2 linked regions of the Homo sapiens genome follow. Each later gene encodes a partner of the first gene's protein in a complex. Each region holds a gene or a part of one and is shown in the gene's direction. Other genes may lie near its edges.

Evidence for each region.
Region 2: the proteins of UBA2 (region 1) and UBE2I are in contact, whole or in part, in a crystal structure (PDB 4W5V), measured with the Homo sapiens proteins. Residues at the interface, in NP_005490.1 of Homo sapiens: Asp479, Gln481, Gly485, Lys486, Gly487, Thr488, Ile489, Leu490, Ser492, Ser493, Glu494, Glu497, Thr498, Asn501, Phe509, Asp520, Asp521, Phe522; in NP_003336.1 of Homo sapiens: Ser2, Leu6, Arg13, Lys14, Arg17, Lys18, Val27, Lys30, Asn31, Asp33, Gly34, Thr35, Met36, Asn37, Leu38, Met39, Asp66.

What each region holds. Positions count from the first base shown.
Region 1 is NC_000019.10:34,466,344-34,471,751, forward strand, and holds the end of UBA2 (SUMO-activating enzyme subunit 2), read left to right. Parts: intron 1-534; coding exon 535-671; intron 672-2,696; coding exon 2,697-2,878; 3' UTR 2,879-4,908; downstream 4,909-5,408. UniProt on the Homo sapiens protein: The heterodimer acts as an E1 ligase for SUMO1, SUMO2, SUMO3, and probably SUMO4. It mediates ATP-dependent activation of SUMO proteins followed by formation of a thioester bond between a SUMO protein and a conserved active site cysteine residue on UBA2/SAE2.
Region 2 is NC_000016.10:1,319,632-1,326,668, forward strand, and holds part of UBE2I (SUMO-conjugating enzyme UBC9), read left to right. Parts: intron 1-542; coding exon 543-652; intron 653-806; coding exon 807-886; coding exon of another isoform or gene 887-1,028; exon of another isoform or gene 1,029-5,098; coding exon 5,099-5,162; 3' UTR 5,163-7,037. UniProt on the Homo sapiens protein: Accepts the ubiquitin-like proteins SUMO1, SUMO2, SUMO3, SUMO4 and SUMO1P1/SUMO5 from the UBLE1A-UBLE1B E1 complex and catalyzes their covalent attachment to other proteins with the help of an E3 ligase such as RANBP2, CBX4 and ZNF451.

The sequences.
Region 1 (5,408 bases):
GAAAAAGATCACATTGTAAGTAGAGGATGTAGAAATCTTTTTTTGGCATTGTAGCTAAAGAAATAATGTCCAAGAGTTGCTTTAGGCCACCAAGCTTTGGACCCAGTTTTATGCTTCAGCAATAAAAGTTATTTACTGTTTTAAAGAAACAAAAAACCAAAACCTTGCCCTGATTTGAAAGTGCATGTAGAGTTTTTGATTATCACAGAAATTTGTTGTGTACCGTCTTTTTTATTATAAGTTCAGTGCTTTGAAAATTAGAATCCAAGGTGGGTATGGTTGGCTCACGCCTGTAATCCCAGCACTTTAGGAGACCAAGGTGGGAGGATGGCTTGAGCCCAAGATTTCAAGACCAGCCTGGGCAACATTATGAGACCCTATCTCTCATTTTTTTTTAAATAAAAATTAAAAAAAAAATTAGAATCCACATATTTGGTGTATACATAGTGTATGCTTTGAGGAACAACAGGATTTCTCTGGTGCTCCTTTGCTTTCTAAATAGTCATAGCAGTGACCTGTGTGATTCTCCTACAGTGAAGACCTAGGAAAGGACGTTGAATTTGAAGTTGTTGGTGATGCCCCGGAAAAAGTGGGGCCCAAACAAGCTGAAGATGCTGCCAAAAGCATAACCAATGGCAGTGATGATGGAGCTCAGCCCTCCACCTCCACAGGTGAGTATGGCCCCAGCCAGCAGGTTGTTAAATACCCACAAAGCAGAAGTAAAAACAAACTGATTATTAGGAACATTGACCATAAATCCATAAAACTACTAGAGGTGTGTATTGGTTTGGTATTGATTGTTGTAATGGAGCTTTGAATTTATGAACCATGAAGACATTTAAGGCTGGGTGTGGTGGCTTACACCTGTAATCCCAGCACTTTGAGAGGCCAAGATGGGAGTATTACTTGAGGCCAGGAGTTGGAGAACAGCCTGGGCAACACAATGAGAGACCCCCATCTCTACAAAGAAAAAAAAAAATTAACCACGCATGGTAGCGTGTACCTGTAGTCTCCGCTACTCAGGAGGCTGAAGTGGTTCACTTGAACCCAGGAGTTCGACACTGCAGTGAGCCATGATTGCACCACTGCACTGCAGCCTGGGCAACAGCAAGACCATGTCTCAAAAAAAAAAAAAAAAAAGTCATTTAAGGCCTGGCATGGTGGCTCACACCTGTAACCCCAACGCTTTGGGAGGCCGAGGCGGGCAGATCGCCTGAGCTCAGGAGTTTGACACTAACCTGGGCAACACAGGGAAATCCCATCTGTACTAAAAATACAAAAAATTAGCTGGGCGTGGCAGCATGCGTCTGTAGTCCCAGCTACTCGGGAGGCTGAGGCAGGAGGCGGAGGTTGCAGTGAGCTGGGATCGCGCCACTGCACTCCATCCAGCCTGGGTGACAGAGCGAGGCTTCCGGCTCCAAACAAACAAGTCATTTAAGACTGGGGGAAATTCTTATGGAAATTTCTTACAGAAAATAAGAACACTTTGTTATTTTTTGTTAATTGGTTTTTAACAGTTTGAAATGATAGTTTACTAGTGTGCAAAGTCAGCCTATGTAGTAGCAGGTTGGGGTTTTGTATGCTTGTTTTAAGGAGCAATAAATCCATGCATCTGACTATTTTGAGTGAACAGGTGCTTGTTAAGTATGGAATTTAGGCATGTTAGAGTTTCCTTGTCACCAGTATGACTTGGGTATAGTCCTTTCCCCTGGATTTTCAGTGCTGGTGCTTGGTATTTTTCCAAATAACTGATTGTTTACTGTATTCTGATTTGAATATTTACTCCTCTCCCTTTCTTCCTTTAGTTAGGAAACTAAAGGTTACCAGATTTTGACTTCTTTGTTTTCATTTCTTTGACCCTATGTCTGTGGCATTCTTTGGAATATGTTTACTCTTGGCTCTAATGTTCTCTTGAGAATTTTGGAGACGAACATTCAGATTATGGCCTGGGTCATTGGTTCATAACCTGTTTTTTCCCCCCTCACTGAAATTAGAAAGGTCCGTCATCTTCCTTTGAGGAAGAGACTATCTGGTAGATTTTCCAAAATCATAATTTGAAATGTACATTTATTGATTCTCTACTGTGGGTAGGTTTCCAAGGTTACAGCCATGAGTAAGATAGGTATTCTGCCTTTGATTTTGTTGGACGAGGAGATAAAACCACCTTTAGTATCAGTTCTGCATTGGGGATGGTTCCTGGCTTCATCCTCTGCTACTATGTAAGCTTGGGAAGTCATTCACTGAGTTTCCTTTCCTGGAAAGCAGATACTCATGTGATCTTCTTTATAGGGTTGTGATGATTAAATGAGTTGTCATATGCACAGTGCTCAGAACAGTTCCTGGCACATTGTAAGTGCTGTATTGTTGTTGCTATTGTTACCACTACTACCATTATTAGAATATGTACCCTCTGCTTTTCTATTGGAGAATGTGGAGGTAGAATCAAGGATGTGTAATGAGTACTTTGAGTTACATAATGCTTGTCACAATTTTTTGTTTTGATTAGAAAATAAATAGGTTCTTATATAAAACATTTAAAACAGTATGGAAATACGTAATGTGTAAAGTGAAAATGCAGCCATTCTTAAGTCTGGTGTGTATTAGAAGAGTCAGCTTTCAATTATAGAAAATACAGGTGAGCACAGGTAACTCCCACGCTTTTACCCATTTTCTTTTTCCCTTTTTTCTGAAATAAGCTCAAGAGCAAGATGACGTTCTCATAGTTGATTCAGATGAAGAAGATTCTTCAAATAATGCCGACGTCAGTGAAGAAGAGAGAAGCCGCAAGAGGAAATTAGATGAGAAAGAGAATCTCAGTGCAAAGAGGTCACGTATAGAACAGAAGGAAGAGCTTGATGATGTCATAGCATTAGATTGAACAGAAATGCCTCTAAACAGAACCCTCTTACTATTTAGTTTATCTGGGCAGAACCAGATTGTTATGTCCTTTGTTCCAAAGGGAAAAAATTGACAGCAGTGACTTGAAAATGATTCTGCTCCCTTTGAAAGCATTCATTTTGCTAGAACTGTTAGACACATTGCAGTATGCTGTATTGAAAGTAGGAATATAGTTTTAAAAACCCTTTGAACAAAGTGTGTGCATAACCAGTCATGAGATAAAACAACACAATGCATGTTGCCTTTTTAATGTAAATACCCGTAGGTATCATTAATAGTTTCAAAATATTGTGGTTTAGTAAAGTTGATACCTGGTTATAAATATTATGCCTTTATTTTTGGCTAGAAGAAGAATTATTTTTAGCCTAGATCTAACCATTTTCATACTCTTAACTGATTGAAACAGATTCAAAGAAGTATCGAGTGCTATGCATTGAAACTTGTTTTTAAATGTTAGATGGCACTATGTATATTAATGTAAAACAATGTTAATTTACTCAAGTTTTCAGTTTGTACCGCCTGGTATGTCTGTGTAAGAAGCCAATTTTTGTGTATTGTTACAGTTTCAGGTTATTTATATTCGATGTTTTGTAAAACTCAAATAACGACTATACTTATGGACCAAATAAATGGCATCTGCATTCTTGTTACACATGCCTGCACAGTTCCTGTTTCTGCTGCCTTATATCTACTGCAGGAATGTCAAATTCTTTTCATTAAAAAAAGAACTCGGTCGGGCACGGTGGCTCATGCCTGTAATCCCAGCACTTTGGAAGGCTGAGGCAGGTGGATCACCTGAGGTCAGTAGTTCAAGACCAACCTGGTCAACATGGTGAAACCCCATCTCTACTAAAAAAAAAAAAAAAAATTAGCCGGGCCTGGTGGCAGGCACCTGTAATTCCAGCTACTCAGGAGGCTAAGGCAGCAGAATTGCTTGAACCCGGGAGGCAGAGGTTGCAGTGAGCCAAGATTGTGCTATTGCTACTCCAGCCAGGGCGATGAGTGAAACTCCATCTCAAAAAAGGTTCAGAAGATCTCCACTGTTTGCCAAAGACGAGTACTTTCTTTTCTTTATTCTTGGAGACTTCACATGTAGGAAGAGTACTTTCTAAAATAAAGCTCTTCCTGCGTGTGGTGGTGGTGCACATCTGTGTTCCAGCTACTCAGGAGGCTGAGGCAGGAGGATGGCTGGAGCCCAGAAGTTCAAGGCCAGCCTGGGTAACATAGCAAGACCCTGTCTCTAAAAAATAAGTAAATAAAATAAAGCTTTTAATGGCAGTGGGTTTTTTGTTCGTTTTTGAGATGAAGCCTCACACTGTCATCTGGCCTGGAGTGCAGTGGCGCGATCCTGGCTCACTGCAGCCTCCGCCTTCCAGGTGCAAGCGATTCTCCTGTCTCAGCCTCCCCTGTAGCTGGGATTACAGGCGCCCTCCACCACGCTCAGCTAATTTTTTGTATTTTTAGTAGAGATGGGGTTTCACTATGTTGGCCAGGCTGGTCTGGAACTCCTGACCTCGTGATCCACCTGCCTCAGCCTCCCAAAGTGCTGGGATTACAGGCGTGAGCCACTGCGCCTGGCCTAATGGCAGTGTTTTTAAAATTTGGATTGTCAGCAGTTGGCCTTTGTTGAGAAAATGTGTGACTTTGCCCAAGCCCAGTAACTTGGAGCCTTGAATTTGAGATGCTGGAAAGGGAGTCCTTCCTCCTTTCTGCAGTGTTTGTCTGGGTTGTCCCCTAGTTTACCAAAGTCCATTTTGAATGTACCATCCCCAGCCCAACTCCAGCCTACAGATAGTGCCAGACCGCCAGTAGGTGGAGTAGCACTGTCTTCCTGGTCCCGGACCTCAGAGGGCTTTGCCTGTTAGGGTACTCTTATCACTCAGAGATGGGCCTTGAGTTTTCAGAGAACAGAAAGCCATTAAGCTGTTTCCCCTATTGTATTCATGTGCCCTTTGTGTTTCTGGCAATAATTTATTTTATATTTCAACTAAATTTTAAATTTCTAATTCATGTATTGTTCCTTGTGTAATTTGTACTGTACCATTCAGCTTATTAACCATTACTCCTTGTTTTCCACCATTTGTAAATTCAGCATGTAATCAGAGCTTTCAGAAAAACCATGTAGAAGACTGGGTGTGGTGGCTCACACCCATAAGCCTTGCACTTTGAGAGGCTGAGGCAGGAGGATCGTTTGAGCCCAGGAGTTTGAGACCAGCCTGAGCAACATGGCAAAACCCCATCTCTACAAAAAATACAAAAAGTAGCTGAGCCTGGTGGCACTTGCCTGTAGCCCCAGCTATTCGGGAGGCTGATGGAGGAGGATCGCTTGAGCCTGGGAGGCGGGGTGTGCAGTGAGCCAAGATTGTACCACTGTACTTCAGACTGGGTGACAGAATGAGACCCTGTCTCTGAAAAGAAAAAAAAAGTCATGTTGACTAAGACTCAGCCTTCTGGAGCCCCAGAGTGGAGTGACTTTCACCTGTGAGCTTCATCTGCCTTTAGGTTTTTAG
Region 2 (7,037 bases), on another chromosome or scaffold:
GCCTAGAATATCAACTGTGATGGTCCCTGGTGGGGCTAATGGTGGCAAACTTTTCTGCTTTTTTGTAAAGAAATAACACAGGGTCCTAAAAGCCCGTATATCCTGGAAGCAGAGGGTCTGCGTCGGAACAGCCGACTCTGGAAGGGCGTTGGCTATGTCCCTGGACGTCTCCTGCAGCTCCTCCCATCTCCCCTGAGTCTGGCCCAGCTGGAAAGGATGTGGGGGCCACAGGTTAAGTGGCCACCCTGGGGCCTGTGTTCCCAGACTGCCTGGCTGTGCTGGGAGTTCTGTCCTGGGAGAGACACAGCTTCGTCTCGGCTGCGGCCGTGTCCCCAAGGCTCTGTTCCCTGTGTGCAAAGGTGGATATGTCTTCCTTTAGTCTCCTCATGGCCACAATTTAATTTTTTTGAAAAGTTTTTGGCCAAATAACCTGGCTACCAACCCGGGGCCCCAGTGTTGGGAGGAGGGTGATGTGGGGAAGGACGTGACTCTGGGACAGTGCCTGCCTCCAAAAAGTGCTTCCTTTCTTCCTCTTCCTCCAGGTAAATTCGAACCACCATTATTTCACCCGAATGTGTACCCTTCGGGGACAGTGTGCCTGTCCATCTTAGAGGAGGACAAGGACTGGAGGCCAGCCATCACAATCAAACAGGTACGGGGCCTCCGCCTCTGGCACCGGCAGGGCTGCCTTAGTCTCCCCTCCGGACACGTGGGTCTGTGGTCATTCTCTGTGGCTGAGGCCGAGTCTCACGGTGTCTCCCTTTCAAACTGCTCACACCCGTCTTGTGTTTTTGTCTCTGGCACAGATCCTATTAGGAATACAGGAACTTCTAAATGAACCAAATATCCAAGACCCAGCTCAAGCAGAGGCCTACACGATTTACTGGTTAGTAGCAGCCCTGGCCCCGCTGGTGGCAGCTCCTCCCCGTCCCAGCCAAGGCCGCCTGGCAGGACGGGAGTGGAGGACACAGGCTCACCCTACGGACAGCCAGGGTCCACGCCTCTGTGGGGAAGGTCGGGGGGCATAAACCCTGTGGGCAGCAGGCACCGTTGCACACCGTCTGCGGTGGGCATGGATGGCGCCGGAGCCGTGTCCCGGGGAGGGAGCAGGCCAGGTGACGGGCTGTCTTGGGCCACTGCCCCAGTGAGTTGTGGCCAGCTAGGAGGGGAAGGACCCTGGGCGTGGGTGCCAGAGGAGGCCATGCTGAGAGGCCTCTCCACCGGCTCAGCCTCCCATGGACCCCAGCCTCCCGCGCCGCCCTTGCTGCTTGTCCCCATCCCCTCTACAACTTGGTTCCTTCTGTGGGGGGGCCCAGCCCAGCAGGGCTCAGTGACGTGATGCTGTCACACGGACCCTGGGCTTCCACCCTGTCCCTGTGAGGTGCTGCTGTGGCTAGAAGGGTCCCCGTGGGCCTGGGGTCCTGTCTGCACCGAGGAGGGCCTGGTGTGAGTTAGGATGCAGACGACAGCCAAACAGTGCTGGGGAAAGCAGGGAGGACCCTGCCCTGAGCAGAGGCCATGCGCCCGCCTGTCCTGTTCCCTCTGCAGCTGTTCTGGGCAGGTCCATAAGAAGGTGGGTTGGGGCCTCCGACCCCCCACTGCTCCGCCTGCAGCGTTGAGAAACCCAGCCCCATCTCACCACGGGTCCCCACACCTCTGAGGGGGTCTCAGGGCCCCCAATGGCCAGGGACCCAGAAGGCTCACCTGCAGCCACCCCACACATCCCTGCCACTGTGGGCATCAGAGGCCCTCTCCCTCCAGGGTGCATCTCCTGGTCAGGAGGGGGGAGGCTGAGGGGTCCCGGTTGCCTTAGGCCCGGCCTGCACAGGTCGTGAGGAAAAGCACCTGGTTTCGGCCGGGCGCAGTGGCTCACGCTTGTAATCCCAGCACTTTGGGAGGCCGAGGTGGGTGAATCATGCGGTCAGGAGTTCGAGACCAGCCTGGCCAACATGGCGAAACCCTCGTCCCTACTAAAAATACAAAAAATTAGTTGGGCGTAGTGGTGGGTGCCTCTAATCCCAGCTACCTGGGAGGCTGAGACAGGAGAATCACTTGAACCCGGGAGGCGGAAGTTGCAGTGAGCCGAGATCCTGCCACTGCTCTCCAGCCTGGCGACGGAGGAATGCTGTCTCAAAAAAAAAAAAAGCACGTGGTTTTGGAGAGATGTGTTTCTCCCTGGATGCGGGCCCAGCCCAGGTGTCTGCAAGGTGCCCTCCCTGGTGGCCGAGGGTGGCACAGAGGCCCCAGGCAGGGAGCAAGTATCACAGCAGCCACCCCAGGCTCAGCCTGGCTCCCCTGCATGGTGGTGCACACCTGTAGTCCCAGCTATTTGGGAGGCTGAGGTGGGAGGACTGCTTGAGCCCAGGAGGTTGATGCGCAGTGAGTTGAGATTGCAGCACCGCAATCCAGCCTGCTTGACAAAGCGAGACCCTGTCTCAAAAAAAAAAAAAAACTCATAGCCGCTCAGTCAGCCAAGCCATTGCTGGAAGTGGCTCGTGGGACGTGGCGTGACCTGGGTTTGTGTGCTGGCCTGCTGTGCCCTAGGAGTCCGTGAAATGCATTCCCTTGGACAGGAAGCCACAGTGCTCGTGGGTGTCCACATGGCCCTTGAGGCAGAAAATGTTTTCTTTTTTTTTTTTTTTTTTTTTTTTAAACAGAGTCTCACTCTGTCGCCCAGGCTGGAGTGCAGTGGTGTGATCTCAGCTCACTACAACCTCTGCCTCCTGGGTTCAAGTGATTCTCCTGCCTCAGCCTCCCAAGTAGCTGGGATTACAGGCACCCACCACCACACCTGACTAATTTTTGTATTTTTAGTAAAGACAGTGTTTCACCACGTTGGCCAGGCTGGTCTCGAACTTCTGACCTCAGGTGATCCACCCGCCTCGCCTCCCAAAGTGCCGGGATTATAGGCATGAGCCACCGTGCCTGGAAAATGATTTCTAGGCCAAGTGTGGTGGCCCAACACCTGTAATCTCAACACTTTGGGAGGCCAAGGTGGGCTGATTGCTTGAACTCAGGAGTTCATGACTAGACTGGGCAACATAGCGAGACCCTATCTCTACAAAAAATTAAAAAATTTGCCAGGGGTGGTGGCTCATGCCTGTAATCCCAGCACTTTGCAAGGCCACTGTGGGACGTTACCTGAGCCCAGGAGTTGGAGACCAGCCTGGGCCACATGGCAAGACCTGCTCTCTTTAAAAAAAAAAAAAAAAAAAAAATTAAGCCGGGGATGATGGTGCATGCCTGTAGTCCCAGCTATTTGGGAGGCTGAGGTGGGAGGACTGCTTGAGCCCAGGTGGTTGATGCTGCAGTGAGCCAAGATTGCAGCCTGGGTGACAAAGTGAGACCCTGTCTCAAAAAAAAAAAAAAAAGCATGCCGGGCGCGGTGGCTCACGCCTGTAATCCCAGCACTTTGGGAGGCCAAGGTGGGCAGATCACGAGGTCAGGAGATTGAGACCATCCTGGCTAACACGGTGAAACCCCATCTCTAGTAAAAATAAAAAAAATTAGCCGGGCGTGGTGGCGCACACCTGTAACCCCAGCTACTCGGGAGGCTGAGGCAGGAGAATGGCTTGAACCTGGGAGGCGGAGCTTACAGTGAGCCGAGATCACGCCACTGCACTCCAGCCTGGGCAACAGAGCCAGACTCTGTCTCAAAAAAACAAAACAAAAGGCAAATGTTTTCCTGCCTAGCCCTTAGATGGTCTGCCATCCCCAGCATGGTGTGGGCGTGAGCTCTGTCTGGCCTGCACCCCATTTGCCGACCATCTCCAGAGCTGGGCTGTGGCTCCCATCTGCGGCGTGGGCTGGGCAGGGTTGCAGTCCCCCGCCCCGTGTGACTCTCCCCAGCGTCTCCTGGGCTTGGTGCCTGCTGGGCTGCACTGTACACTTGCGTGCACGTAAACAAACGTTCTTTCTCCTACACACATCCGCTTGAAAAGCACCCTTTGTGAAGCATGTGTGCGGGTTTCAGATCGTTTTTCCTGGGTTTCCTGGAGGCCTTGGACCGTGTTCCTGCCCTGGCAGGTGCCTTTTCTCGGGGCCTCTGCTTGGTCAAGGAAGAGCTGGGACGTGTAGCCACCGCCTCTGGTTCCTTCCACGCCCACCCAGCTGAGCTGCTCTGCCCTGGGGCCGGCTGGTGGCCCAAGGAGGGCGCTGGGGTCTGGGCTGCGGTCCAGGCCCTTGGCGTGGGTGGGGGTGGCACCGGCGCTGCTGCCGTCCTGGGCTGTTCCACCATGCAGAGTGAGGCTCAGTGTCTCAGACCAGGTCCAATCCTGGCGAGACTGGCAGGACTGCGACCCCAGGAGCCACCTCCATAAATGTCATGGTGTTCCCCCATCCTCAGGGTCACACTGCACCCTGTGACCCATCAGCCCCTAGGTGCAGCCTCGGCCGCCCTCCCGCCCACCTGTTTTGCCCGGGCAGTGTGTGCCATGCCACTCTCCTGGGCAGCTGCTTGCAGGCTGAGCCTCACTCTACCCAGCTCCAGACCTGTTCGCTGATGCCCCTGCACTGCCCAGCTCGGGCACAACGCCTTCTCAACCAGGCCTGCCTTCCCACACCTTTGCCCCTGCGGCTGAGAGCCTCATGGAAAAACCCTCCAGAAATTGGTGTCTATTTTTGGGAATTAACAAAAACAGTGGCAAGCAGTCAGTGTTTTCAGTTTATTAGGACTGTCCCCAGACCTACAGAAAAGAGAAGCTGCTGATTACTAGTTAGGACCAGACTTGGCATCGGCAACGATGTTGCAGGCCCTGGCGTGGGCCCTCTGGGCCTGAGCCCTCCTCGCAGCCCTGCGGGACCCCTCTGTCCCCCTTGAACACCACGTTCACCCAGCGTGGGTTCCTCTCCTCCCTGCCCTTCTGCCCCCGTCAGACCACGGGACAGTCTCAGCCACGTCAGAGCCAGCATGGGCTCCCCACCACGCAGGCCTCCCTGCTTCTCCGGGCTTCTGCTTCTGTTACTATGACGAGCTCCACACTGCCCTCCCCCAGGAGGTCCCATCCTGCAGCCTGGTCTGCCCAGCTGGCTCCGGGGCGAGCGTGAGGGCCAGGCAGCTCAGCCCTCTAACACGTCTCTTCTCTTTTGACCTCCTCAGCCAAAACAGAGTGGAGTACGAGAAAAGGGTCCGAGCACAAGCCAAGAAGTTTGCGCCCTCATAAGCAGCGACCTTGTGGCATCGTCAAAAGGAAGGGATTGGTTTGGCAAGAACTTGTTTACAACATTTTTGCAAATCTAAAGTTGCTCCATACAATGACTAGTCACCTGGGGGGGTTGGGCGGGCGCCATCTTCCATTGCCGCCGCGGGTGTGCGGTCTCGATTCGCTGAATTGCCCGTTTCCATACAGGGTCTCTTCCTTCGGTCTTTTGTATTTTTGATTGTTATGTAAAACTCGCTTTTATTTTAATATTGATGTCAGTATTTCAACTGCTGTAAAATTATAAACTTTTATACTTGGGTAAGTCCCCCAGGGGCGAGTTCCTCGCTCTGGGATGCAGGCATGCTTCTCACCGTGCAGAGCTGCACTTGGCCTCAGCTGGCTGTATGGAAATGCACCCTCCCTCCTGCCGCTCCTCTCTAGAACCTTCTAGAACCTGGGCTGTGCTGCTTTTGAGCCTCAGACCCCAGGTCAGCATCTCGGTTCTGCGCCACTTCCTTTGTGTTTATATGGCGTTTTGTCTGTGTTGCTGTTTAGAGTAAATAAACTGTTTATATAAAGGTTTTGGTTGCATTATTATCATTGAAAGTGAGAGGAGGCGGCCTCCCAGTGCCCGGCCCTCCCCACCCACCTGCAGCCCCACCGCGGGCCAGGACCAGGCTCTCCATCTGCTTCGGATGCACGCAGGCTGTGAGGCTCTGTCTTGCCCTGGATCTTTGTAAACAGGGCTGTGTACAAAGTGCTGCTGAGGTTTCTGTGCTCCCCGCATCTGCGGGCTGTAGAGCGCTGGGCAGCTAAGATCTGCATAGGTCGGGATTGGCATCGAGACCCTGGCAACTGCACCGGTGCCAGCTGTCTTGGGGGCCACAAGGCCAGGTCCAGACCAGGGCTGGGGGCTGCCTGAGGACTCCTATCCGGGCAGCCTGCTGGCGGGGGTTCCCCTCTTCAGTGGCCAGGTCACAGGGATGGAGCTGCGCTGTGCATAGGGTGCCACCTCAGGTGTCTGTCCCTTGTGTCCTCAGGAGGCAGCCTTGCTACCACCCGTGGCAAACGCCAGGTGCTTTTTCTGGGAGAGCCCACAGCCGTGGCCCTCCAGGGCTTCCCCGACCCTTAGCGCCAGGTAGAGGGCCCTGGGCAGCCTGTGTCTGGAATTCTTCGTCCTGAGGCCACCTGAGTGTGGTCTGTCCTGGGGAGGCTGTGCGCCTCAGCAGCCGTCCTGACGCTGAGCCCTCTGCAAAGGTTGGGCCGGCCAGGCCTCTTGGGGCTGCCTGAGCCACTGCAGGAAGTGGCCTGGCTGGGAAGTTGGGTGCCGGTCACCTCCCAGCAGGAAGGCACAGTGGACAGAGATGGGAAGCCCTGGGGGACACAGCCCGGTGCTCCCAGCCCTCCAACCTCTGGCTCCCAACCCAGTCTCCCCATCCTAGCGAGCTTGGCCCTCCTCAGTTTCGTTTCAAGCCTTGGGGCTGGAGCTGGCCCTGCTGCCCTGGCACCCCCCGGTGGCTGGAGCTGGGTCCCCGTGGCCCAAGTGCAGGGTCCCAAGAGGGCAGGGCGGGGCTCCCCAAAGGAGCAAAGAATGCAGGGAGGGCGGTCCAGGGCCCTGGGAAGGGGAGCTCGGCACCCTCCAGGTCCGTGTGGGACTCCAGCCGCTGTTGGCTGGGAATCGAAGTTAGAGGTGACTTCCAAAGGCCCCCCGAGCCGGCAGTGCCCCCCACCACCCCTCCAGCGACTCTGCGGTGCCAGTGCCTTGTTGGCTTTTCCGGCTACGCACCCTGCAGTCACTGAGCTCTCGGTCTGACGTCTGATGTTTGTGGTTTGTTTATAACACGGGGCCTTACCTGGGGAATTCAGCTGGTTTGAATATTTGTAGCCCGCTCCCAG